4 linked regions of the Homo sapiens genome follow. The protein of the gene in region 1 interacts with the protein of each later gene in a pairwise test. Each region holds a gene or a part of one and is shown in the gene's direction. Other genes may lie near its edges. The genes, in order: BRWD1, CHAT, TOR1AIP1 and NRF1.

Region 1 (7,459 bases):
TTAGCCTTAGTTCCTCATTCTTTTTTGAGACAGGGTCTCGCTCTGTTGCCCAGGCTGGAGCACAGTGGTACCACCATAGCTTGTGACAGCCTTAAACTCCTGGGCTCAAGTGATCTCCTGCCTCAGTCTCCCCAAATAGCTCAAACTACAGTCACCCAACACCATGCATGGACTAAGTTTTTAATTTTTTGTAGAGAGAGGGTCTCACTATGTTTAAGACCAGCCTTGAACTCCTGGGCTCATGCGGTCCTCCTGCCTTGGTCTTCCAAAGTGCTGATAGCACAGACGAGAGCCACTACGCCCAGACTAGTTTCCTCATTCTTAAAATGGGAATAACAGAATCTAAGAGTTGCCTGCGGTAAATGAGATTACACACGTACTTATCACGTGGGCTTCCAAATGTCAGCTCTCTGATGCGCTAGCTGTGCAATCCTGTGTAAGTCTCCTAATTTTCAGGTCCCATTTCCTCTTTTGTGAAACGTGGCCAAGGGAGAATGGACTTTGCAGTGTTTGTGTTTCAGTCTAAGATAATACTGTCTACTTGGGATTGCAGTCCAGCCACCACTTACCAGCTATATGCCCTTGGGCCATACTTCCTCTGCGCCTCAGCTTGAGCCTATCAATGACATCTAAGAGCTGTTTATCCAGTCAGGAGTTGCTTGCCACGGCATAAGATGTTGGTTCCCTTGAAAATGCAACCCTATAGCTTAATGTCACCCACTGTTAAGATTTTCCAACACTTGCTTACCATGTAGCTTTCTTGTGGTGAAACTCTAAAGTTATTTCCATTTACCCAAAAGCAAACCTCAGTGTGTACATATGGAATGGCTGGGATTGAATTGTGTGAGGAATACACAGATTCTTGCCTTGTTTGGAGACCACTTCTGGTGGGTACCCACTAAGGAGTTGCTCCTGGACAGTGTATTTCTTTTTCCTCCTCCTGGCAGGCAAATATGAGTCACATCTGAGTCTCTTGACATATGGGAGTCGAATCGGGAAGATATTCTCTCTCTTGTTAGAAATCTTTGTTCCTATTCAAAATTTAGAAAGAATATTTGTCATGAATGTGATAGTAAGTTGTAAAAGGACTCCCAAGGCTCTTGTAAAGGAAAACTCATGTCATCGTGTCTTTTTTTTGAGACAGGGTCTTGCTCTGCTGCCTAGGCTGGAGAGCAGTGCTGTGATCATGGGTCACTGCAGCGTCAATCCCCCCCGGCTCTAGCCATTCTCATGCCTCAGCCTCTTAAGTAGCTGGGGCTACAGGTACACACCTACCACCCCTGGCTATTTTTTATTTCTTGTAGAGATGGGGTCTTACTATGTTACTCAGGCTGGTCTCGAACTCCTGGGCTCAAGCAGTCCTCTGGCCTTGGCCTCCCAAAGCGCTGGGATTACAGGTGTGAGCCACTGTGTCTGGGCTCGTGTCATCATTTCTGATCTCTTGTAATGGTTATCATGGTGCCAGTATCAGAACGATAATTTTGGACAATGACCAGAGCTTGGGATATAAATTCTTGTAATATCTTTAGGGGGTTTTTAATCTTACGCCCTTGTTACAAAATGAAATGCACAACTCCTTGGTCAATCATTGAAAGTTTAAATTCTCCCCTCTTGATGTCTTTGTCATTTGGTAACACTGGTAATCTTGCAGCATCAGATCACTGTCCCACAGTCATCTATGCACTGTAACTTCAAATAATCAAGTTGTTGCAAGCAGTTACTCATCTTAACAATCTAGCTACCAGCCTGTATGCCCTACCTTATTTGTTGGCACAACCTTGGAAAGCCCCAAACGAGATTTTTGTGGTTTTTATTTCACCCCAACTTCATCTTGCAGATTTACTGTCCTACATACTTCTGATCTTGTCTCTTCTCTATCCTTATGACCAACGCCCTCATGCATCATTTCTTTTCTATTTCAGGGGTATGTTAAGTGCCTCTTGGTCTTAACTTTCTCAAATCCATCCTAAAATAGAAAATGATTCCTTCCTGGCTTAGAATCTTTCAATTGCTCCCAATTTCAACTTCTGACATCATGGTCCCATCCTCTCCAAAGTCACCCCAAGTAGTCATACTAAACTTCTGGTTCCTTAAACTAGAAATCATATTCATGTCTTGGCCCTCTGTTGTTTGTATGTGCGAAATCCCTTTCCACACATTGTAGCCTGGATAACCCAAACTTCCCTAACATTTCCCCCACGCACAGGCAAGCTGATCTTCTGATATATCTCTGCCCTAAATCGTGTCATTATTTGCTTACATCTGTTTCCCCTAAGAGACGCTGAAGTCTTTGATGGCAAAGCTGTGGCTCATTCCTTTTTTTTTTTTAATCTCCATCACTTGTTAGTGCTTGCTGAATTAACAGATGTAAGGAGTTAACTTACTGTTGCACTAGCTCAAACATATTTAGATTGTTACCTCACAAATAGCTTTTTTTTTTTGGAGACGGAGTCTCGCCTTGTCGCCCAGGCTGGAGTGCAGTGGCGCGATCTCGGTTCACTGCAGCCTCCGCCTCCGGGGTTCAAGCGATTCTCCTGCCTCAGCCTCTCAAGTAGCTGGGACTAGAGGCGCGCACTGCCACACCTGGCTAATTTTTTTATTTTTAGTAGAGACGGGGGTTTCACTATGTTGGCCAGGATGGTCTTGATTTCCTGACCTCGTGATCCGCCTGCCTCGGCCTCCCAAAGTGCTTGGGACTACAGGCGTGAGCCACCATACCCGACAGCCTCACAGATATCTATGTCCATTTATAAATATATATAAAAGCTTTTGGCCAGGCGCAGTGGCTCATGCATGTAATCCCCAGCACTTCGGGAGGCCAAGGCGGGTGGATCACCTGAGGCCAGGAGTTCGAGACCAGCCTGGCCAACATGGTGAAACCCGTCCCTACTAAAAATATAAAAATATAAAAATTAGCCGGACGTGGTGGCGCTTGCCTGCAATTCCAGCTACTCGGGAGGCTGAGGCACAAGAATCGCTGGAACCCGGGAGGCAGAGGTTGCAGTGAGGTGAGATCGCGCCACTGCACTCCAGCCTGAGAGCAAGACCCTGTCTCAAAATAAATAAAAGCTTTTGCTATTTGGTGTAAATAAAAGCCAACTTGTACACGGTGCTTACTGTATACCAGGAACACAAATTCATTAAATCCTCACAACTTTGAGACAGGCACAAATATTATCTGTTTACTAGTGAGGAATTACCTACGGTTTACTAGTAAGGAACACTGAGACCCACAGGTTGTGACTTGCTCAAGGTCAAGCTGGTGGAGCCAAGACAAGGTGCAGGCAGTGAGTCCTGCCCTAGAGTCTGACCCGAACCACATTTAACGTCTATGTGGTGTGTAGGTTATTGCCATGAGTAAGAATCAGAATTGTTAACGCGCATTCCAGGAAGGCAGGGACACCACTGAGTGTTACTGCTGTACTTTAGGGGCCAGAGCAGGGCAGGCTGGATGCGCGGAGGAAACTCATAGTTAGGTCAGAAGCCTGGCAAGACAAGGGAATTTTCTGGTCGTCGTCCACCTCTCCAACCTCACATCCTACTAGTCTTCCAAGAGGATTCTAACTGCACATGACTCCCTAGTTTCCGGCTTCTCTTCCTAAGGAGGGTCTGCGGCCCGTCTGCACCACCCTCTCCCCACAGTCCCGTTTTCCTGTCCATGCTTGGATGGATCCAGCCGAGCCGTCAGCCGCAGCTGCGCGCTGCTCCCCCGACTCGCACCCCCTCGGCGAAGCGCTGCATTTTATGTAATTTTCTGCCGGGCTGCTGGCTTGTGGGGGATGTGGCTGGGTCTCGGCAGCCTTCAGCGCCGCAGACGCTCCGGCAACGCCAGCATACGAGGCCCCCGCCCCAGGAGCGCGGGTCCGGGCGGCGTTCCCCTCTGCGGGAGGCGCGGCGAGCCAATCCTCACTTTAAAAGCTTTCCTGTCCTCGAAGCGAGGGGTCTTCCGTGCGGGGCAAGACGCACTGGCCCCAGACGACCGGTCCGTGAAATGACCCTTCCGAGCGACCCGGAGCGGGCGACCTTGCCCAACCCGCGACTCGGGGCCCCTGCGGTCCCGCGTAGAGGACCCAGGTCCCACGGGGGGCGGCGGTGAATCGCCCCCTCTTGTGGCCGCGCTTCCGCCCCCGGCACCCGCCCGCTGCTGGGCCACCCGGCGTCGCGCTGCCGCCTCACAAAGCCCGGGCAGCCGCCTCATTGCGCGCAGGGATTCGGACCACGCGCCCTCCCCTCCCCCACTCGCTGCTGCGGCGCCCAGGTCTTTGCCTCCGCGTCACTTTCTCCTCATCGAGTCCCCGGAGGCAGAGAGCTGAGCGAGGTTCGCCTCCCCGGGCGGGACACGAGCTCCGGTCCTCTCTTGGCGCAAACCCCCGCCCCCCGCGGAGGGACTACTTTTCGTCTCCCGCGGAGGAACTACTTCCTCCCCCGCGGAGGCGTCGGTCCAGGCGGCGCGCACGGTATGGCGGCGGCGGCGGCGGCGGCGGCGCGCGCCTGAGAAGAGGGGACGCCAGCCCGGTCAGGCCTCGGCGCGGCCTACACGCTCCGCTCGCTCGCTCGCTCCCGCCTCCCGCCCCGCGCCCGGCCATGGCGGAGCCGTCGTCCGCCCGACGCCCGGTGCCTCTCATCGAGTCGGGTAAGACGCGAGGCCGTGCCACCCCCGCCCTGGCGCTCCCGGCTGCTTCGGCTTCCCCGGCTCCCCGGGCTCCCCCGGCTCCCCTGGCCCCGTCCCCCTCCCCTCCCCGCCGGGGCTTGACCTGACTCCTTGTCTTCCCGCAGAGCTGTACTTCCTTATCGCCCGGTACCTATCGGCGGGCCCGTGTCGGAGAGCGGCCCAGGTGAGTGCGGGCCCGCGGGCGGCTGCGGACTTGGCGTCCCCAGTGTCCCCGCCGCCGGGGGTCGCGGGTGGTGGGCGGGGGTGAAACGGGAGCGCCCCGGGCCCGACCCCACCCCTGACCGCGCGTCTCTCGGCCGCAGGTGCTGGTGCAGGAGCTGGAGCAGTACCAGGTCTGTGCGCGCCCGTCCCCGCGCTCCCTCGGGTTCCTCCTGCCGACCTTGCCCTGAGGGATGCTCGCCCGCGCCCCCCGCCCGCCGCCCGCCGCCCGCCCCCGGCCCCCCGCCCCCCGCCCCCCCCGCGCCGGAGGGGTGGTCACTCGTGTGCGTTTCGTGTCTTTCCAGTTGTTGCCGAAGAGATTGGACTGGGAGGGCAACGAGCACAACAGGAGCTACGAGGAGTTGGTGAGCATTGGGCACGTTTGCTCCCCGGGTTTTCCGTGCACCGCCCCCCGCCCCCGCCCCTTCCCCTCGCGGGGACCCCGGCCCGTGGGGTGCAAAGTGTGACCCGCACTGGGGGGCGGCCCGGGGATAGCTGCGTTCCCGGCTGAAGATTTTGTTTTGTTTTTGAGGCGGCCAGGTTTGTTTTGGCAGGAAACAGTCATTGGGGGCGGCGCGGGGCGGAGCGGTGGGGGCGACTCGCGGAGGTCCTGCGGCAGGGGTGGGGCTCCAGGTGCGGCCGCCTCTGCGGGGGTGTGGCGTGCGCAGCCAGCCATTCAACTGGGCGGTTTCATTCGCTTCCCCGCTCCACCGCGCTTGTAACTCGCGCTCTGATTGGCCTCGCTGCTCTTGCCCCGCCCGGGTCTGTCCCCCCACTTGTTCCCTAGGAATAGAATCATTGGTCTCTGAAGGTGGAGAAATGTTCTTGTGTTGAGCTTTTTATTTTTTGTTTTGTCAGCAGCGTCATAAAAATCTTGCAGCTGTATGAATATGCCACTGTAGTGCTTGTGCTCCTTTCTACTGTACAATATTTGTTGAACGCAGTAGTTGATTGATGAGTTTCACACTGATCTTGTAGATAACACAATAAAGTGCTTTAAATAGGCACTTTTCTTTTGAGCTCGGTTAATCTTGCATTACAGTCTCATTTCTTTTGTGAACTTGGTTAATGTTTCTATATAACTTGCTTTTATCTATAGTTACAGCAGTTGCAGGGATTCGTTTGTTTTTACTGGAGACATTTTTCAGGAATATATTTTTGCCGTTTCGTTATTAGGATAAAGGAATTCATTAATTGCCAGGCCATATTCAGCATCTTGTATAAGGAAAACAATTGAGAAAGAAAAGAGCTTCTGAGTGATCTTTTACCACAGTTGGAAGACCTGTAACACTTGAGTGGTAGAGTATGGTGGCAAGTGAAAAGAAGAAAAAAAAGTGGTAGAAGATTACTGGTTTTGAATTAGACAACAGAAGAGACCAGAGGATGTGTTATTTCCATGAACAGTTAACACTTGAAGCCTGGTGCAAGTAATAAATAATTTTAATATTTGCTTTCTTAGATTTTGAAGTAAACACTTTAACAGTGGATGTTTTCAAGGGAATGAGTTCTAAAAATTCTGATGGCAATGTGTTGAGTTTGACATTTTGAGATAGTTTATTTTTGTAAACGTTGAGGAAACATTTAAAGGATGCCCTCTTTTAGTTTTCTTCACGGATAATATAGCCTTATCGGTGAAGCGGAAAAGCATTACTGGTTATGACGCTGTTGTCGTGCTACCTGAGAGAAAATAACTTGAAACAAATGTAGTGCTGTAACTACTGGAAAAGTTACTTTTAAAATACATTTATAGGGGCTGGGTGCAGTGGCTCATGGCTGCAATCTCAGCACATTAGGAGGCCGAGGTGGGAGGATCACTTGAGGCCAGGAGTTCAGACCAACTCTTGTCTCCACAAAGAATAAGTAACAGAAAATTAGGCGGCTGTGGTGGTGCGTGCCTGTAGTCCCAGCTATTTCGGAGGCTGAGGCGGAAGGATCACTTGACTCTGGGAGTTTGAGGCTGCATTGAACTATCCTCCTGCCACTGCATTCCAGCCTGGGAGATGGAGCAAGGCCTAGTTTCTTTTTTTTAAAAAAAAAATTTATATAAATTTTTTGGCTTTTGTTGGTAGAATTGCTTAAAACCCTACTTACTATTGTTTAAAATCACTTAAATTCTGTGATAATATGGCTGTGATTTGGCTATGACATATGGCATCTATCATTGCCTCCCTGATTTGGTCTGTCTGGTGGGTGTCCTTTCTTTTTTTACCTTCCTCTCTGCCCTCCAGTCCCCCAGGACTGAGTGATGATGAGCCTCATGTGTAGAGAATTATTCTTTTGTTAATGGTATATGTATCGTTTCTAAACTTTCAAAGTCTTTTAAAAATACCTTATTAAGAAGTATTCCAGGCCAGCTGCGGTGCTAACACCTGTAATCCCAGCACTTTGGCAGGACGCTTGAGGCCAGGAGTTCTAGACCTGCCTAAAGTGAGGTTGAGGATGTAGTGAGCCCTGATCAAGCCACTGTGCTCCAGCCTAGGTGAGCGAGACCCTGTCTCGAAACGCAACAACAAAAAAGAAGTATTTCAGATGTACACAAATGAGAATAATGTAATGCACCGCTGTATATCATCAAATTTGAATAATAAT
Region 2 (7,025 bases), on another chromosome or scaffold:
CTCCCAAGGGCTTTCACTGCACCAAGAATAAGGCGATAGCTCCTCTCCACTGCCACTGGAGCCCCACAGGACCTGGCCTGCCCACCTCTCTGGCCCTGTCTTCACTGGGCCTCAGCCCCACTGGCTTCTCTCTGCCTTTGATCAGTGCTTCTCAAGCTGCCTCTGGGGAAGAACCAATATATTTTCTTTCATTTTGTAAAATTTGTGAAAAACAACAAAAAATTGATTACTAGAAAAACGGTATGAAATATGAGACCAAATGTTTTATTACAGGATTCAACAGACATAAAACTCCCATCACATTGCTACAAACATTTCTGGGTTCAGGCATTACACCAAGTCATGGGTCAGTCACAGCAGTTCAGTGCAATACTCATACTTTGAGTTGCAGTGCTTTGGGACACTTCACCCTTAGGGCTCAGCTCAATCAACCTGCCTCAGTGAGACTGCCCCTGGTCACCACCTCCTGTCCCTGCCAACACTCTGTCTCACTACCTGACAGTCTCCTGTTCACTGGTTTGCTGCTTGTGGTCTACTCCCTACCTACACATCCTAGGACTTACACCCCAGTAGAGCAGGAGCTGCATGTCTTATTTGCTGCCATATCCCCACATCCCAGAATGGTGCCTGGCCTATACGGAGGACGTGCTTCACAAATATTTGTTGGCTGAAAGAGTGGAAGGAAGGAAGGATGGATGGACGGATGGATGGATGGATGGATGGATGGAAAGATGGATGGATGGTGGATAGATGGGTGGATGGTGGATGGATGGGTCGATGGAAGGATGGATGGATGCTTGGTGGATGGATGGGTGGATGCAAGGATAGATGGATGGTGGATAGATGTGTGGATGGTGGATAGATGAGTGGGTGGTGGGTGGAAGGAGGGATGGATGTTTCGTGGTAGAAGTATGGTAGATGTATGGATATATGGATGGATGATGGATAGATGGATGGGTGGATGGATGGAAGAAAGGGAGGGAGAAAGGAAGGATAGGCACAAGGCATGCTGAGACCAGAGGGAAAAAGAACTTCCTGCATTGACCTCAGAAGAGGCTTCTAAAAGAGATGATAAAGGAGTAGGCTCTTGAAGGAGGGGAAGGAGTTTTCTGAATAGAACAGTTGAGTTCTGGGGTTGGGGCAAAGGCACGCCGAGAGAAGATCAGCATAAGCAAAGATGCAGAAGGCTAACTGGCAGGCTTTGCACATGCCGTGCATGAGGCAGAGGTTTGAGAAAACTCTGAGGGTCTCCACGTGTTGTGGAAATGGGGCCTCCACTACTTTAAAAAGTGGAGAATTGAGCTCTGCATCTGCCATGATGATGCAGTTCTGGGTTCTGTGCCCCATTTTGCCTGATCAAGTTACAATAAAACCCATTCTCTGTCTCCCCTCACCACCCACCATCCCCTCGTGGCTGCCTCCCTTCCCACTCCTCTCCTTCAGCCACTCCATTCCCACTGACTGTGCCAAAGGCCAGCTGTCAGGGCAGCCCCTTTGCATGAAGCAATACTATGGGCTCTTCTCCTCCTACCGGCTCCCCGGCCATACCCAGGACACGCTGGTGGCTCAGAACAGCAGCATCATGCCGGAGCCTGAGCACGTCATCGTAGCCTGCTGCAATCAGGTAAGCAACCCCTTGTCTTGGTGAGGGAGGGCACAGAGCATACAGTGGCCATGCGTTCACGTCCATTACCTTCTCCGAGGGGGCTCAGCCTCCTTCCCTGAGTCACACAGGGAGCTGGGGCACCATGTCTCCAAAGTGGGGCCCCTACTTCCAGTCAGTCCCATGTCTCTCCACCAGTTGCCTTCTAAGAATGAGAGCCGTCAGTTTGAGAATATCCTCACTGGACTCTCACTTCAGCACTGATGCACTGAGGGTCATGATCGAGACCTCCACCTGTACATCTGTTCTTTTCCATGCAGTCACCCAGGCTCTGGCCTTTCTGGAGACCACACACAGACAGACAGTGTTACAGACTGACAAATAGGACCTTTCATGTGTCAGCCTGTGGGCTCAGCACTTAACATGCATTCATCCCACTTAATCCTCACAGTGACCATGCAGAGGGGGCCTTAGGATCTCTGTGTGACAGTTGAGGACATGAGACTCAGACAAGTTAAGTGGTCTGTCCAAGAGTGGGAAGGAATCCTGGGTCTGGCCAGTGCCCTAAGGTCATGCTCTACCCCCTGCAGCTCAGGTCCTCAGACTGGGTTCCACAGAGCCAACAAGGACCCATGGGTCCTGGGGGACAGGCTGAGCATGAGGGCTCCTGACCTCTTCCCTGTGCCCACTGCACTATATATTCCATATATTGAGCTTCACATAAATATTTCCTCTGACAAACAGTTTTGTTTTTGTTTTTGCTTTGCTAAAACCCAAGTTTGGCAACCATCCCAGGGACTCCCCTGGTACTTGCTCTACAATGTGATCCTGGGCTCTCCTCACATTTTTAGTAAGTTGGGAGCTCTGTGGAGCCCTGACATCTGAGGGCAGCTGTGACCTCTGTTCCTAGATTTGAAGGCCATCTAGGAGCTCTCGCAGCCCACCTGACACCTTGGCCATAGACCAAGGACGTTTCCCCATCTTCATTCAAAAGTCAAGCCAAGTATTTCCCAGCTCCCACAGGCCACCGTATCCACCTCTTCCAGACATGCTCTGGGCCCCTGCACAAGACCAGGCCATACAGACACTGCTAGGGGGTTGGAGGGGAAGGGAAAACAAGGTACTCATGTCAATCAGCTGAAAAGTGTATCTTGACCTGGGTCTAGGAATAGACCCTTCACAAAGCCCAAGGCTCTAGCCTTCAAAGCTACAAAATGACAAAACCACAGGGCTGACATACAAAGCACATGTAGGTATACATGTGAAGGTGCACACACATGCACACATGTGTAGGTGCACATGCACGCATGGTGTGTGTTGGTTTTCCATTTTAATCTTCCTCTGCATATGATTGCTGGCTTGCTTTTTTTCCTCCACTCACCAGTGTGTTTAAGGCCCATCACTGTGGCTCTATCTGTTGCTAATTCACTCTTTTCAATGGCTGGGTAGACATGCCCTAGACATATACACCACATTTCACTTAGCCATTCCCCTTCTGGAGAACAGTGAGGCTCTTGCTACCATTTTGCTGTTGCAAACAAGGCCGAGAGGCACATTCCTCGTGTCTTCCGGTACACACGGGTACGTTTCTCTAAGCCTCAGGCTAAAATATGCATTTATAAGTGCAATTGCTTAGTCATAGGTATGCACATTTTTAGTTTTGATAGACACTGCCCTCCAACAGTAGCTGTGCCAATTTATATTCCATTCCCCACAAACATAATGGATTCCGTGAACCATGAAACACATTTTCTTTTGGCTAAGTTTAATGTTGCCTTCTTTGATTGGGGGCAGCGTGGAATCCAGCACAGTCAACAGCCTTGGCTTGGTCCCTAAACTGAGACTAGAACCACCAAACACCTTGGGAACCTTGGGCCTGAGCATCCCTGCCCCAAGCTTACCTGTGAAGGCTGAGTGAAGGCCTGGTGCCACGGGCCACCCAACAAGTGACATGTTTGACCTGTTTACCCCACAGTTCTTTGTCTTGGATGTTGTCATTAATTTCCGCCGTCTCAGTGAGGGGGATCTGTTCACTCAGTTGAGAAAGATAGTCAAAATGGCTTCCAACGAGGACGAGCGTTTGCCTCCAATTGGCCTGCTGACGTCTGACGGGAGGAGCGAGTGGGCCGAGGCCAGGACGGTCCTCGTGAAAGGTCAGCCGCAGTGCCCAGCACATCTCCATGCCCATCTCATGCTCGTGCCCATTGGCTTTCCCTCCTCTAGGGTTGGGCCAGGGCCTCATCCCCATCAGCCATAGTGTGGGAGCTCAGGGCCCACAGCATGCCCTGCGGCCAGCCACAGTGCCTTGCCACCGAAGCCACCTTTTGTGCCCTCGTGTTCCATCTGACAGTATCTGGCTTTCTTGGTGGGACTAACTAGTGCTGGAATTGGGGATGTCTGAGAATACTGGGCGGGGCGGGGGAGTTAGCTGGAGGAAGGCTGGCTGCAAGTGAGCAGGTGTGTTTTCCTGGTGGGTGGCGCTCACTGATAGTGGCTGGGGGAGTCGCTGAATGGGGGTGTGGGATGGAGCCTGCCTCTGGGAAAGTGGTTCACCACCTCTTTCACCTGATCTCTCCATCCTGGGACTCTTCATCTTCAAGCTGTCCCTTATCTTGTGGCACTGTTCTGATGAAAGTCTCCAAGCATTCCCATAAGAAAGCCAGGAATATTCTTGAAAATTTTTCATCACCCTTCTGGAAACTACTTTCAAATCCAAAGCTGGTCCTATTCCAGGAGCTGATGGAATGCTCTCCTTCCTTGCCCATGTTAGAGACACTGGATGAGAAGCAAGACTTCTGTGAGTCTTTATTTACCCCTCAGAATTTTACTGGGTCAGGCAATCTATTCAGACTCTCCACATCTGTTACTGAGGGCCCTGGGCTTGGCTCAGGGAGTATGGGAGACAAAGGAGTTGAGGCCTCTACCCAAGAGCAGCCCCATGATGGGAACAGGAAGAGGGGGCATGGGGAGGAGACTCACATCCAGGTGCATGCAGTGCTGACCCACTTCAGACAGGCGTCAAAAACGTGCTCCAGGACTTCAGAGAGGGGACGGAGCCCTTCCGAGTGGGATTGTGAAAGGCTCTGTTAGAAGAGGTGGGAATGGAACAAAGCCCCATGGCATGAGTGAGAAAGGCTGGAGGGAAGGATGGTACCCAGGCAGGCAGACCAACCCTGGGCAAAGCCCGAGGCCCAGCAGGGACACACCCACCTTACCCCCAGGGTGAGGAGGAGAATAGCTGCCCAGCAAAGGTGGCCTGAGCCGGATGTACTGGGCCTATTTTTTCTAACAGCCACTTGCATTTTCTGGTCTCTCTCTAGAAGGGTCTTCCCCCAGATCCAGCTGGCTCCTTGCCGCACGCAGAGCTCAGCCCAGGTGTCCGGCCTCAGGCCTGCCTTGGGCATCCTTCCCGCACACTCTGTCACTGTGGCCCGTTCGCTTACCTTGACTCTGTTGCTCACTCTCTGAGGACAACTTTGCATTTGTTTGATAAATGCTGATTATCTGCCTTTCCCCCCACCTCCTACCCACTGCCTATAAGGTCAGAAGGACAGGGGCCTTGTCTGTTTGGTTTAATTTCTGAGAAACACAGTCTGGGCCCAGTTACATTTATTAAATAAAAGAGTGAAGGGTGATTAAAAATGCCAGGCCCCAGACTTATTCCCCGACTTACCAATTAATTATTCTTTCATCCAATTATTGGGCACCTCCTGAATGCTGTCATAAATAGGGGGCTGCAGGAGCCAAAGAGGGGTGTGAGAGCTGACTGCCCTCCCGGACCTAACCTCGTGCTGGAGAATTAATAACTTAGCATTCCGCAGTGAGTTAATTCCCTCGGGAGACCATGGTGTAATCAAATCCCACTCTTCTCCCCTTCAGGGACAGAGACAGGCATCAAAATAATCGCCTCTGCCTCCAGCATAGTTTCCACTTTATTAGCAGGCCAGGCCCAAGACACGCCCTTCAGGGCTGGCTGGATTGCCCCAAGGTCTGAGCACTTGGGCTGCAGATCAGAATTGATTTGTTAATGGCACTTGATCTGGCTTTCTGAATGGAAGTGCTGTTTCTGAGGGAAATGCGACAGAAAGGAGGGGACACATGCGCCTCCCCTTGGGTAATCCGATTAATCCAGTTAGCGCCAACTGTGTCATCTACACAACAGGAAACTGATCCTTCACAGATCCCCCCTCCCCAGAGCAGCCCTGCCTATGGAACAGAAACAGAGAGACCATTTACAAAATGATTTCGGTTTCCCAGTGAAAGAGTATGGCAGCTTGGGACAGGGTTGAGAGTGAAGATGGAGAGACCAGTGACGTCAAGGCCATTGAAAGCGAGAACAATTCCTGGGCTTTTTATCCGAGCCGTGAGTGGATGTTAGTGCCATTTAGTAAGATGGGAAACAGGGTCGGGGAGTGGGTACAGGATGGAGAAATCATTGCCACACATGTTGGGTTAGAGGTGCTTGGGTCATCTGGGTGGAGACGTCAAGCTTAATATATATGTTTGGAGCCCAAGGGAGAGGTCAGTACAGAGCAATAAATTTGAGGGACATCAGCGCATAAATGATCCTTAAAGTCATGGACCTGGGTGAGATAATCTAGAAACAGAAGAACAGGGAGCCTGGAGGTCAGGTAGAGAAGGATGCAAAGGGGATTGAGAAAGAGTAGCCCATGAAGTAAAGGAAAGCCAGAAGAGTCACAAAGATTCAAGACAGAGGGAACGGCCAGCCACATGGAATGCTGTGGAGAGCTGGAGGAGGAACAGGACACAGGGGACCCGGCTTGGCAACCCTGAAGTTGTCACTGGGCTTACTGAGGGTCAGACTGGAGTAGCAGGAGAACAAATGCTTGCACACTGACAGAAGTGATCCAACAGCAGAAAGAAATTGTCGATGAGGCAGTCAGTGAGTTGAACCAGTGAGTATGGTCGACTTTTTCTCAGACATTTTGACACTAAAAGGAGCAGAAAAATGAGGGAGTTGCTAAAAGAGGATGAGGGTCAAGGGAGGTGTTTTTAGGAGGAGAGACAAATGTATGGAAGGAATTTAGTAAAAGAAATTGATGAAGAGATAGGAGATGAATGGAGGGGTGGAATTCTTGCAAAGGCAAAAGGAGATAGAACTCAGAAAATAAGAGGCCTTTGGTTGGTACAGGGTGAAGTGGAAAGCTTGGGCCTGAGGCAGCAGAGGTAGGAGCATGCAGAGGCTCCCAACTGGTACCTCCTGGTCTCAGATCACAACCTTGAGATAAGAGGCGGGCAGTTGGATGTTGAAGATGAAATCGACTGTGTGAAATAGCCTCCTGGAAAGTGGGAAAGAAGACTTGAAAAACTTGATAAGATTTATGGACTGTGTTGAGCTCATATATGAAGGTTCAAAGTGATACATTTTAGGAGAGGCTAATTAACATTGTTATGTGATCTT
Region 3 (7,025 bases), on another chromosome or scaffold:
ATCATTGTTTTATGTACCACCTAGCAAGGGAAAATGCTGCCAATTTTTTGGTAATTTGTAGTAATATGCCATAATTATATGATGCATCCCAATTTCAAAGATGTTAAAGTGTTTAAAAAAATTGTCAGAATCAATGTAACATGGAAGTAGGCTACATTTAATAGTTCACTTAAGTTTTAAAAGCTGATTAAAATATTTTAAAAAGCTGGAGAAGGGATCAAGTCCAGTTATTAATGCTTTGGGTTTTAGTTCCATTTAATTTTCAATTTGCTTTTTTTGATATTAGGAAAGTCTCACAATAATAAACAATCATAGCTGTTAAAACTGATAATCCTTGGTTTTTAGTACCCAGATCCTGACTTATTTACCTGTTTCTAATAAGATTATGCTTTATAATGTGAGCTATTGTATTCTAAACTTAGAATAAGTATGTCTGGTTCAAGTTGAGTTTCAAATAAAAACACCTTCATGCTAATTTTTTTTTCTTTTTTCTTTTTTGAGACAAAGTCTCGCTCTGTTGCTCAGGCTGGAGTGCAGTGGTGCCATCTCCACTCACTGCAACCTCCACCTCCCAGGTTCAAACAATTCTCCTGCCATAGCCTCCTGAGTAGCTGGGATTACAGGCGCCTGACACCACACCTGGCTAATTTTTGTATTTTTAGTAGACATAGGTTTTCACCATGTTGGCCAAGCTGGTCTCGAACTCCTGACCTCAGGTGATCCACCCGCCTTGGCCTCTCAAAGTGCTGGGATTATAGGCATCAGCCACCACGCCTGGCCTGTCCTATATTCCTTGAATAGTCTATGTTACTGTGTTAAGATTATAAACTATCTTAGAAAAATGCTTTGAATAATGATGATATAATCAGATTTTCTGGGCCATTTTGGAAAACCATAATCTTGAATTTATTTGCAGTAGATTTTATTGTATACCTGGGAAAGCAAAAATGTCTAATTTTAAATCTAGAGTAATTTATAAAAATTATGGAGTTAAGTAAATTGGTATAATGAAGACTACTGAGTGCTAGCCTCCGGACCATTATAAAACTATTAAGTAATAGAATGTCTTGAATAGTCTTTTTGGAGTTTATATTAGGCTCATATTTAAGAACTGCTAATGAGGTACACCATGGCTGCATGAGGTTGTGGCAAGAGCATTGGACCTCAGTGAAGTTACTCACTCATCTTGAGCCTTAGGCCTTTACCTGTGTTATTTGCCCTGCATAACTCACAGGGCCTCTGAAGAAATGAGATAGTACATTTGAAATCACTTTGTACCCGGTAAAACATGCAAGTGAGGTTTTTTTTTTCTCATAGCCCTTTACAAGAGATGTGAAGTTCATACAATTTTGCTTAAGTGTATCCTTTTTCTCAAGAAGCTTATGCTATAAATAGAAATTGAAAATGTTTACCAATATAAATGACAGATTAAATGGAATCTGCACATAGATTACCTGGACTGTATCAATAGCATACTGTGCCTTCAGTATTACTAGAAATAAGAGTATGTCTGTCTTTGAGAGGTTTGAGATACTCAGGGTTTTCTTCCTCTAAAAGGTGCTTTTATACTACATCTAATACTTGGCATATTCCCATCCCATGCCTCTTAATGAAAGGAGAGTTTAGGGAATTATTAAATGCTTATAAAGTCTAAGAGAAATTATTTAAATGGAGTCACTCTTTGATGGAGGACTGCTTTAAGTACAAGTTTAAGGTAAAGATAAGCCCTTCTTCCTCATAGAATGATAGACATTCAGTTTAACTTTGATATTCAAAATAGTGCTATAATTGTATATAAGGCTACCGGTGTGGTCTGACAGAAAATTATGCAAAGATGCCCTTACGAATAAAGACCTAGGCCCGGCATGGTGGCTCACGCCTGTAATCCCAGCACTTTGGGAGGCCAAGGTGGGCAGATCACGAGGTCAGGAGTTCGAGACCAGCCTGGCCAATATGGTGAAAACCCCATCTCTACTAAAAATACAAAAACTAGCCAGGCGTGGTGGTGGGCACCTGTAATCCCAGCTACTCGGGAGGCTGAGGCAGGAGAATCGCTTGAACGCGGGAGGCGGAGGTTGCAGTGAGCCGAGATCATGCCACTGCACTCCAGCCTGGGTGATGGAGCCAGAGTCCGTCTAAAAAAAAAAAATACCTAAACCAAAGGACCACCTTATAAAACAACATAGTAAAAATATCTACATCATTTGGTTATCTTGTTATTGGAAGACTTGAAAATGTTGATTAATTCAGAACAGGAATATAGTTTGAAATCTTCTCATTGTTTGAAATTCCATAATTGAGTTGTTTTCACTTAAAATAGCCGTTAGGTTGTTTAATCAATTCAGGTTATATATACCTACATAACAGTTATTCTCCTATGGCCAGATTCATTTCTTTCTGGAAATTATGACACTAATTTTATAATCCAAAAATATATTAGGACAAATTCTATTTACTTTTCCAGAAGTTAAATGGGTATTTTTGTTCTACTAGTGTGGTTTCTAGCTAAACAATCAGATAGTTGTTCTTAAATGCTTACTATTTTATCATGAACATTTGCTTCTCTAGCTGCTGTAGTTAGAGCATTCATTCTCCAGATAATTATTGAGCACCTACTTTGGGCCAGTCTCCATGCTTTGATTTGAGGGTGCAGTGGTGAACAAAAGCAGACAAGTGAGGAAGCCTCCTACCAAAGAAGGGTACTTGATATTTTGTTCTCTCATACCTCTCTCTGGTACCCTGTGTCTTTCAAGTACTTTACTTGGCTATGGGATATGTATATAGTAGCACATGCAGGAAATGCTTCTTAAATGAAAAGATGGGAACTGAAGTAGTGATTGATGTCTGTAGAGTCAGTTTGATTAAACATAGCTTAGTAAAAGCAGACAAACCAAAAACAGATTTTAGGTTTTAATTAAACCTGAAAAGGCTAGAAGTATAGAGAAGAAAAAGAGGAAGGTAGTTGTAATATGTGGAGTAACAGGAACTAAAATTTGCCTTTATTATCATGTGTGCAGGGTTTTTGTTTTTGTTTTAAAGAGACAGGGTCTCACTGTCACCCAGGCTGGCGTGCAGTGCAGTTATACTGCAGCCACAAACTCCTGGACTCAAGCTATCATCCTCCTGCCTTCGCCTCCCAAATAGCTGGGATTACAGGCACACACCACTATGCCCAGACAGGGTCTCAGTATGTTGCCTAGGCTGGCAAGATTTATTTTTTAAAGATATCGATATAAGTTCTAAATACTTGATGTGTGAAATACTGAGATAGATATTTCATAGAATTTTAGAGCTGGAATATTTAAGGGGATCATCAAAGTTCCAGAATGTGTTTTTTGCAACTCAGAGCTAAGACATAATGCTTTTTTATACAGATGAATGAAACAAAACATAATAGAATCCAAATTTTGATAAATATTTGGTTTTAGAACATGTTATGTGAGGTACTTGGAGAAAACATACTTTTATAGGTGGTTTTCTAGACTAAAATTAACATTTTAATAGGATCGGCTTCTCCGCTATCCCTATGCCATTGAACTATAGATGGTCTAAAATAAACCCTGGCCCACATTAATGTTTTTATTTAAAATTAATTTGCATTTCTTCAACACAAGGTTAAATAGAATGAGCGTATTGAATCTCAGGATGTTAACCCTAAAATTAAAATATTCCATAAATAATCCACAATGAGGGTCAGTCACAAATGGAATAGATAATTGAGTTGGTACCATAATACAGATTTTGGTTCTTAATTGAGCAATTTAGAAGAATTTTATTTAGTATTTCTTTCCTTCCTACAGCTACGGTTTGCTGAGAAAAAATGCAAATTTCTCCATCAAGACTATAAATTTTATATGGCAGGAAACTTGTCTCTAGTTCACTATCATCACTAGTTCGCAACAGTTGTCACTTAGAAAGCTTGTCTCTACTTCTCTAGCGTAAATAAAAGCTCTGTAAACCTTTGTTGAATAAATAAGGGATGATCATGTAATAAAGCTAGTATGTTTCACATTTTATATATTTTTAAATGTTTTCTCTTCCTATATTAGCAGTGAGTGAAGATCTTGTAATCAGGTTACGTCGACCCCCTCTAAGATACCCAAGATATGGTAAGAGATTGTTTGTCTGTTGGTTTACCTTTGTTATAAATACAGTTTTATTTTTAAATATGGTTGTACATGTATTCATATGATTCAGAACTTAAAAGTTACTGTAAATATACATTAAAAAATCTCCCTGTCCCCTCTGTCATTCAGCCAGCCAGTCTCTCTTCATCAAAAGCAACCAATGTTGTCAGTTTATATTTTTTGGAGATTTACAGAAATTCATGGATGAAATTATCTTGTCCTTTTTATAATACAAATTTTGGCTTTATAAACTCTCATTTCTGTCTTTTTTTTTTTTTTTAATTTGAGACAAGATCTCGCTCTGTCATCCAGGCTGGAGTGCAGTGGCACAACCAGGGCTGACTGCAGTCTCAATCTCTCTGGCTCAAGCAGTCCTCCTGCCTTAGCCTGCCAAGTAGCTGAGACTATGCATCCACCACCACGCCTGGCTGATTTTTGTATCTTTTGTAGAGATGGGGTTTTGCCATGTTACCCACATGATCTCAAACGCCTGGGTAAGTGATCCACCCACCTCAGCCTCCCAGAGTGCTGGGATTACAGGCATGAGCCACGGCACCTGGCTTACTTTTCTGCACTTTCTTGTTTATTTTTACTTAACATATATACAGAGATATTTCTATATTCATATATAAAAAGCTTCCTTTTTTAAAGAGATTGTTTCTTATATATTCCTGTGATTCTTTATGATGATTTTAAACTATGGTCAGGGACTTTATTCTTCCAGTATACTGCTAACAAAAAATTCAAGCTGGAGCTCTGTGGCACAGAACGACAAAATGTCCCTCCCTCAGTTATCTTTTTGACTAAAACGATTAAAAGTATTGCCCTGAAATTGATTTCATGACTATGAAGAAAACTAGTAAAGACACTCCAAGCAGTCTACTTTTACTTCATTTTCCTTGTTTTTTTGGCTCTTAAAGATGCTTTATCATGGGAACTAAAAAGGAAATGTATTTATCTTTATATTAGGCTTCTGTACCTTCCCATTCTCTTTATCAAAGAATGATGTTGATTTATTTCGATAGATAGTTGACTATCCTTTTAAGTATTCCAGTGGTAAAGATCTACTAAGGTTTTGTTAATGAACCTGTGGTAAAGAACCATATGATGCATTTCCTTTTCAACCCTAATCATTCTCTTGCTATGTCTCTTGCAGATTCGACATACAAAACAAATAGAAATACTAAAATGAGTGAATTATGTTCGTTTATTTCTATTCTTTTTTTTTTCCAGGCAGGGTCTCACTCTCACCCAGGCTGGAGTGCGGTGGCGTGATCTTGGCTCACTGCAGCCTCCTCCTCCTATTGTAGTCCCAGCTACTCTGGAGGCTCAACTGAGCCTCCTACTTCAGCCTCTGGAGTAGCTGGAACTACAGTCATGCATCACCATGCCTGGCTGATTCCTGTGTTTTTTATAGAGATGGGGTTTCACCATGTTGCCCAGGCTAGTCTCGAATTCCTGGGCTCTAGCAATCCACCCGCTTTGGCCTCCCAAAGTGCTGGGATTATTGGCATGCACAACTGCGCCCAACCCTATCTCTAATTCTTACAAGGTCTCTTTGAGGGTCCAGATTAATAGAATACAAGAGTATATATATCTAGTCATTGGCTTGAGAATACTAATTTATTATGTCAGTTTGTGGGGACCCAGTCCCTATGACTAGGACCTCCCATAAACAGCCTTGGTTTTTGTTGTCTATAATTATGCCTATATTATTGCTTAAATTCATATAAAAACATGTAATCAATTTAGTCCTGCTAGTCTTCATTAAATTCACACTATTAGGAAAAAGGAGATAACAACTTACCAATTAAGGTTTTTCTCTTGATTTATTTTTTGTTTTTGTTTTTCTGAGACAGAGCCTTGCTCTGTCACCCAGGCTGTAGTACCGTGGTGCGATCTCGGCTCACTGCAACGTCTGCCTCCCAGGTTCAAGCAATTCTCCTGCCTCAGCCTCCCAAGTAGCTGGGATTACAGGTGCCCACCACCACGCCCAGCTACTTGTTTTGTATTTTTAGTAGAGACAGGGTTTCACCATGTTGGCCAGGCTGGTTTCAAACTCCCTGACCTTGTGATCTACCCCACTTGGCCTCCCAAAGTGCTGGGATTACAGGCATGAGCCACCACGCCCGGCCTTTCTCCTTGATTTTTATTTTTATTTTTTATTTTTATTTATTTATTTATTTTTATTTTCTCGAGACAGGCTCTTGCTCTATCACCGAGGCTGGAGTGCAATGGCGTGATCTTGGCCCACTGCAACTTCTGCCTCCCTGGTTCAAGTGATTCTCCTGCCTCAGCCTTTCAAGCAGCTGGGATTACAGATGACCACCATGACACCCAGCTAATTTTTGTATATTTAGTAGAGATGGGGTTTCACCATGTTGGTCAGGCTGGTCTCGAACTCCTGACCTCAAGCAATCCACCTGCCTCGGCCTCCCAGAGTTTTGGGATTGTAGGCGTGAGCCACCACACCTGGCCCTTTCTTCATTTAGAAAGTGAATTCGATACGTTGTTCACGGCGAGTTCAGTGTCCTTTGCTGTAATACGTTCGTTGAACGGGTTTTAATTCATTTCAGTGTCTGCCTGGCTATAGGACATGACATACCATGATTTGTGGTTTTAAATGAATCTACATTGAATGTTGTTAGACTTAGTTTTTTTTACATTTTAATTATTTTCTAAATTTGAAGATGAGCCAAAAGGGAAACGCTTCATTTTTCTTTATAAATCATTGTACCTTCCTCTAATTCATCTTTCACTTAAGTTCAGGCCACTTCTTTAGAGACTTAAAAAAGCTTTTTAGGCTGGGTGTGGTGGCTCACGCCTATAATCCCAGCACTTTGGGAGGCTGAGGTGGGCAGATCACCTGAGGTCAGGAGTTCAAGACCAGCCTGGCTG
Region 4 (7,025 bases), on another chromosome or scaffold:
GGGATTACAGGCGCCCACCACCACGCCTGGCTAATTTTTTTGTATTTTTAATAGAGACAGGGTTTTGCCATGTTGGCCAGGCTGGTCTCGAACTCCTGACCTCAGATGATCCACCTGCCTGGGCCTCCCAAAGTGCTGGGACTACAGGCACTTGCCGCCATGCCCTCAAGAAGCAGTTTTATAAGCAGAAAGACCAATTTGAATTTTTGGGAAAAAAGTTATTTGACTCTCACTCGTCTTTGACATACAAAGAAAATGTTAAGTATTTCACTTATTTACTAAGTGTTCTTATGTTCACAAGGCCAAATGCTAGTCACTGAGCTATCTTAAGTATGTTTTTATTGTTATATTTGAATGTCTTTTTATTATTAAGGGTATCTGTTGTTTTGTGATCTGAGGTATAAAATTAGTACAGCGAATTTCCATCAAAATGGTTTCACGTAAGAACACCACTCTGTCATTTTTATGTCACATTTGCATGGTGCTTCCCATTTCCTGTGACTTGGTGTGGCACGGTAAGTAGTGAAATTGGAATTTTGTCAAGGTTCCTCTGCTCTTGAATAAAATATCTCTTAGTTTAAACATTGTGTTATATTACACACTGAATCCTGTTCTTTTTCTTTTTTGTCTGACAGTAGAACTTCATGGAGGAACACGGAGTGACCCAAACCGAACATATGGCTACCATAGAAGCACATGCAGTGGCCCAGCAAGTGCAGCAGGTCCATGTGGCTACTTACACCGAGCATAGTATGCTGAGTGCTGATGAAGACTCGCCTTCTTCTCCCGAGGACACCTCTTACGATGACTCAGATATACTCAACTCCACAGCAGCTGATGAGGTGACAGCTCATCTGGCAGCTGCAGGTAGTGTTGTTTGGATTAGAAGCTCTTCTTTAATTTTTTTTTTTTTTTTTTTGGAGACAGCGTCTCACTCTGTTGCTCAGGCTGGGGTGCAGCAGCACAATCATGATTCACTGCAGCCTTGATCTTCCGGGTTCAAGTGATTCTCCCATCTCAGCCTCTGGAGTAGCTGGGACTGCTGATGTGTACCACCACATCTGGCTAATTTTTGTATATTTTGTAGAGACAGAAATGTCACTGTGTTACCCAGGTTGGCCTCAAAGTCCTGGGCTCAAGCGATCCTTCTGCCTCGGCCTCCTAAATTATTGGCATTACGGGTGTGAGTTACTATGCCTGGCCTTTATCACAACTTTTTTAAGCCTTGCAGTTATAACTTGAGCCTGTATTATACTGAGACTTGAGGTCTGTAATCACTTACTATCAGTGTTATGGCTTTGGTTTTATTTTTTCATCTATTCTGCCTATGTTTTGGCTTTAAACTGAAGCATTTATTCCAATTACGTTAAACAGAATCACTGACATGTATTTAGATTTAAATTTACCTTCTTTTCTATATGCTTTCTCTTTGCCCTACCTGTTCTGTTTACTTTTCTCTTTCTTGGCGTTTTCTTTTGTAGTGATTGAAAATTTTGTATTTTTTCATTTTTTTCTTGTTAGTTTGAAAGTTATAAGCTTTTACTATTATCAATACCTGTAGAAATTGTAACATACATCCTTTATTTATCAATGCCTTATGTTGACTAGGCTCAGTGGCTCACACCTGTAATCCCAGCACTTTGGGAGGCCAAGGTGGGAGGATCACTTGAGCCCAGGAGTTTGAGACCAGCCTGGGCAATGTAGTGCAATCCCATCTCTACCAAAAAAAAATTAGCTGGGTGTGGTGACGTGCTCCCTAGTCCCAGCTACTTGGGAGGCTGTGGTGGGATGACTGATCACTTGAGCCCAGGTGTTTGAGGGTGCAGTGAGCTATGATTACACCACTGCACTACAGCGTGAGTGACAGAGTGAGAGCCTGTGTCCAGTTGAAAAAAAAAAAAAAAAGGAAAAGCAAAACGTTGTATGTACTTGGAACTTTTAACCTCTACAGGGATAATACAAATTTCTTAGAACACTTGCATTTCATGCGCCCATCCTATATGCTATTGTTGTCCTTTGTATTCATTTTTGGTATACAGTTGGCTCTCTTTATCTGTGGGCTCCACATCTGCACATTCAACCAATTTTGATCAAAAGTATTAGGAAAAAATTAAAAGTAACAATATAACAATTAAAAATAATACAAATAAAAGGCCAATACAACAACTATTTGTATAGCATTTACACTGTATTAGGTATTATAATATTAGTATTAGTAACCTAGAAATGATACAGAAGGACGTGAATAGGTCATGTGAAACTACTACACCATTTTATATCAGGGACTTGAGCATCTACACATCAAGATGCTAGAAACAATCTCAAGAGGATTTGAAGGGACAACTGTATTTTAAACACCACAGGACTTTTTTTTTTTTTTTTTTTTTTTGAGATGGAGTCTCACTCTGTCGCCCAGGCTGGAGTGCAGTGGCACAATCTTGGCTCACTGCAGCTTCTGCCTCCTGGGTTGGAGCAACTCTCCTGTCTCAGCCTCCCGAGTAGCTGGGATTACAGGTGTGCGTCACCATGCCCAGCTAATTTTTGTGTTTTTAGTAGAGATGGGGTTTCACCCTGTTGGCCAGGCCGGTCTTGAATTCCTGACCTCGGGTGATCCACCCATCTCGGCCTCCCAGAGTGCTGGGATTATAGGCGTGAGCCACCGCATCCAGCGAACAATATTTTTATTTAAAAAATAATGTTAATTTTTTTTCCTGCATCTCCAACTGGTCTCCTGAGATGGTTTTACTTCTGCCTAAAGACACCATTTAATATTTGCTTTAACATGGATCTGCTAGTAACAAGTTCTATTTTTGCTTGTCTGTGAATGTTTTTACTTAAACTTCAACCTTGAAGGATGTTTTCACTGAGTATGGAATTCTAGCTTGGTGGTTATTCTTTCCTCATGTTGAAGGTACTGTTCCACTGTCTTCTGGATTCCATTGCTGCTATTGAGAATTCAGCTATTTCATTCTAACCGCTACTCTTTCAAAGATTATCTCCCACATGGCCTGCCCCCCTCTCCCGGAAATTTTAGCCATGAGATTTTGCTTCTGCTGCATTCCATCTCTTTTCATTCCATGGCTCCAGTTACTTATGTTAGTCTTCCTCACTTGTATGTCTCTTAACCATCTGTTCTGTATGTATCATCTTTCTGTGTAGTTTCTTCTGTCTTTCAGCTTGTGAAAGACAGAAGATTTTCTTCTTTAGCTGTTGTATTAGTCCATTTTCATGCTGCTGATAAGAGATACCCAAGACTGGGAAGAAAGAGGTTTTAATGGACTTACAGTTCCACCTGGCTAGGGAGGCCTCACAATCATGGTGGAAGGCAAGGAAGAGCAGGTCGCATCTTACATGGATGACAGCAGGCAAAAAGAGAGAGAGCTTGTGCAGGGAAACTCCTCCTTTTAAAACCATCAGATCTTGTGAGACTTATTCACTATCACAAGAACAGCATGGGAAAGATCTGCCCCCATGATTCAATTACCTCCCACCGGGTCCTTCCCACAACATGTGGGAATTATGAGAGTACAATTCAAGATGAGATTTGAGTGGGGACATAGAGCCAAACCATATTATTCCACCCCTGGCCCCTCCCAAATTTCATGTCCTCACATTTCAAAACCAATCATGCCTTTCTAACAGTCCCCCAAAGTCTTAACTCATTTCAGCATTAACTTAAAAGTCCACAGTCCAAATTCTCATCTGAGACAAGGCAAGTCCCTCTGCCTATGAGCCTGTAAAATCAAAAGCAAGTTAGTTACTTCCTAGATACAGTGGGGGTACAGGGATTGGGTAAATACAGGCATTCCAAGTGGGAGAAATTGGCCAAATAAAAGGGCTACAGGCCCCATGCAAGTCCGAAATCCAGCAGGGCCGTCAAATCTTAAAGCTCCAAAATGATCTCCTTTGATTCCATGTCTCACATCCAGGTCATGCTGATACAAGAGGTGGGGTCCCATGGTCTTGGACAGCTCTGCCCCCTGTGGCTTTGCAGGGTACAGCCTCCCTCCCAGCTGCTTTCATGGGCTGTTGTTGAGTGTCTGTGGCTTTTCCAGGCAAAAGATGCAAGCTGTCGGTGGATCTACTATTCTGGGGGCTGGAGGACAGTGGCCCTCTTCTCACAGCTCTACTAGGCAGTGCCCCCGAAGGGACTCTGTGTGAGGTCTCCGACCCAACCCCACATTTCCCTTACACACTGTACTTGCAGAGGTTCTCTATGAGGGTCCCGCCCCTGCAGCAAACTTCTGCCTGGATATCCAGGAGTTTTCATACATCCTCTGAAATCCAGGCATAGGTTCCCAAACTCCAATCCTTGACTTCTGTACACTTGCAGGCTCAACACCTTTGTGGAAGCTGCTAAGGCTTGGGGCTTGCAGCCCCTGAAGCCATGGCCCGAGCTCTGTGTTGGCCCCTTTCAGCCACAGCTGGAGCAGCTGGGATACAGGGCACCAAGCCCCTAGGCTGTGCCCAGCACAGGGACCCTGGGCCCAGCCCTTGAAACCTCCTAGGTCTCCAGGCCTATGATGGGAGGGGCTACTGTGAAGACCTCTGACATGCCCTGGAGACATTTTTTCCATTGTCTTGGGGATTAACATTCGTCTCCTTGTTGCTTATGCAAATTTCTGCAGCCAGCTTGAAGTTTTCCTCAGAAAATGGGATTTTCTTTTCTGTTGCATTATCAGGCTGCAAATTTTCCAAACTTTCATGTTTTCCTTCCCTTATAAAACAATGCCTTTAACAGCACCCAAGTCACCTCTTGAATGCTTTGCTGCTTAGAAATTTCTTCTGCCAGATACCCTAAATCATCTCTCTCAAGTTCAAAGTTCCACAAATCTCTAGGGCAGGGGCAAAATGCCACCAGTCTCTTTGCCGAAGCATAACAAGAGTCACCTTTGCTCCAGTTCCCAACAAGTTTCTTATTTCCACCTGAGACCACATCAACCTGGACTTTATTGTCCATATCACTATCAGCATTTTGGGCAAAGCCATTCATCAAGTCTCTTGGAAGTTCCAAACTTTCCTACATTTTCCCGTCTTCTTTTGAGCCCTCCAAACTGTTCCAACCCCAGCCTATTACCCAGTTCCAAAGTCACTTCCACATTTTTAGGTATCTTTTCAGCAGCACCCCACTCCTGGTACCAATTTACTATATTAGTCCATTTTCATGCTGCTGATAAGGACATACTCAAGACTGGGAAGAAAAGAGGTTTCGGTGGACTTACAGATCTATGTGGCTGGGGAGGCCTCACAACCATGGCAGAAGGCAAGGAGGAGCAAGTCATGTCTTACATGGATAACAGCAGTCAAAGAGTGAGAGAGCTTGTGCAGTGGAATTCCTCTTTTTTTAAACCCCCAGACCTAATGAGACTTATTCACTATCACAAGAACAGCACCGGAAAGACCTGCCCGCATGATTCAGTTACCTCCCACTAGGTTCCTCCCACAACATGTGGGAGTTATGAGAGTACAATTCAAGATGAGATTTGGGTGGGGACACAGCCAAACCATATCAGCTGTGTTTAAGGTGCCTTTTTTATGTTCTCTTTTCTTTGTTTTTTCTTTATTTATTAAGGTGCTTCTAAATCTGTTCATTGACTTATTAATTTTGGTAATTGTTAATAGTTTAACCAAAACTACTAACCAAGTGTTTTTTTTCCTCCAGTTTTAGAATTTCTAGTGTGTGTGTGTGTGTGTGTGTGTGTGTGTGTGTGTGTGTTTCCTCCGAGATTTGCACTGAACGGTTTCCAATAGTGGAAAAAAATTTCTTTTAAACAAATAATTTTATAATTTACCTGGTAATTCTCTCTCAAGTTTCTGTTACATGTTGTTAATGTCATTTCTTGTTCACGTTGGCTCTTTTCTTGGTGTACTATTATATTTCAATGAATACTGGATGCTGTGTTTGGAAAATTATTTCTAGAAATAATTTGGGGTCTAGTATAATGTTATCTTCCTCTAGAGAGGATTTTTGTTTGCTTCTGCGAGATGCCCGAGGGCACTAGCAATCCTGGATCATCTTAATCCAATTTAAGGTTTATTTATTTATTTATTTATTTATTTTAGTATTTATTGATCATTCTTGGGTGTTTCTCAGAGAGGGGGATGTGGCAGGGTCATAGGATAATAGTGGAGAGAAGGTCAGCAGATAAACACGAGAACAAAGGTCTCTGGTTTTCCTAGGCAGAGGTCCCTGCGGCCTTCGGCCCTGTTTGTGTCCCTGGGTACTTGAGATTAGGGAGTGGTGATGACTCTTAACGAGCATGCTGTCTTCAAGCATCTGTTTAACAAAGCACATCTTGCACCGCCCTTAATCCATTTAACCCTGAGTGGACACAGCACATGTTTCAGAGAGCATGGGGTTGGGGGTAAGTTAAAGATTAACAGCATCCCAAGGCAGAAGAATTTTTCTTAGTACAGAACAAAATGGAGTCTCCTATGTCTACTTCTTTCTACACAGACACAGTACAAATCTGACCTCTCTTCCTTTTCCCCACATTTCCCCCTTTTCTTTTCGACAAAACCGCCATCGTCATCATGGCCCGCTCTCGATGGTCGCTGTCTCTTCGGAGCTGTTGGGTACACTTCCCAGACGGGGCGGCCGAGCAGAGGCGCTCCCCACTTCCCAGACGGGGTGGCCGGGCAGAGGCGCACCTCACTTCCCAGACGGGGTGGTGGCCGGACAGAGGCGCTCCTCACCTCCCAGACGGGGTGGCGGCCGGGCAGAGGCGCTCCTCACATCCCAGACAATGGGCGGCCGAGCAGAGGTGCTCCTCACCTCCCAGACGGGGCGGCCGGGCAGAGGCGCTCCCCACCTCCCAGACGGGGTGGCCGGGCAGAGGGCTGCTCACATCCCAGACGATGGGCGGCCAGGCAGAGACGCTCCTCACTTCCTAGACGGGGTGGCGGCTGGGCAGAGGCGCTCCTCACTTCCCAGACGGGGCGGGCGGGCAGAGGGGCTCCTCACATCCCAGACGATGGGCGGCCAGGCAGAGACGCTGCTCACTTCCTAGACGGGGTGGCGGGCG

Evidence for each region.
Region 2: the proteins of BRWD1 (region 1) and CHAT interact in binary tests that used the Homo sapiens proteins (3 or more experiments, as listed by UniProt).
Region 3: the proteins of BRWD1 (region 1) and TOR1AIP1 interact in binary tests that used the Homo sapiens proteins (3 or more experiments, as listed by UniProt).
Region 4: the proteins of BRWD1 (region 1) and NRF1 interact in binary tests that used the Homo sapiens proteins (3 or more experiments, as listed by UniProt).

What each region holds. Positions count from the first base shown.
Region 1 is NC_000021.9:39,310,617-39,318,075, reverse strand, and holds the start of BRWD1 (bromodomain and WD repeat-containing protein 1), read left to right. Parts: upstream 1-4,443; 5' UTR 4,444-4,584; coding exon 4,585-4,633; intron 4,634-4,776; coding exon 4,777-4,835; intron 4,836-4,974; coding exon 4,975-5,004; intron 5,005-5,175; coding exon 5,176-5,235; intron 5,236-7,459. UniProt on the Homo sapiens protein: May be a transcriptional activator. May be involved in chromatin remodeling. Plays a role in the regulation of cell morphology and cytoskeletal organization. Required in the control of cell shape.
Region 2 is NC_000010.11:49,624,030-49,631,054, forward strand, and holds part of CHAT (choline O-acetyltransferase), read left to right. Parts: intron 1-1,443; coding exon 1,444-1,624; intron 1,625-3,578; coding exon 3,579-3,756; intron 3,757-7,025. UniProt on the Homo sapiens protein: Catalyzes the reversible synthesis of acetylcholine (ACh) from acetyl CoA and choline at cholinergic synapses.
Region 3 is NC_000001.11:179,885,261-179,892,285, forward strand, and holds part of TOR1AIP1 (torsin-1A-interacting protein 1), read left to right. Parts: intron 1-4,049; coding exon of another isoform or gene 4,050-4,052; coding exon 4,053-4,109; intron 4,110-7,025. UniProt on the Homo sapiens protein: Required for nuclear membrane integrity. Induces TOR1A and TOR1B ATPase activity and is required for their location on the nuclear membrane. Binds to A- and B-type lamins. Possible role in membrane attachment and assembly of the nuclear lamina.
Region 4 is NC_000007.14:129,656,708-129,663,732, forward strand, and holds part of NRF1 (nuclear respiratory factor 1), read left to right. Parts: intron 1-635; exon of another isoform or gene 636-638; 5' UTR 639-644; coding exon 645-867; intron 868-7,025. UniProt on the Homo sapiens protein: Transcription factor that activates the expression of the EIF2S1 (EIF2-alpha) gene. Links the transcriptional modulation of key metabolic genes to cellular growth and development.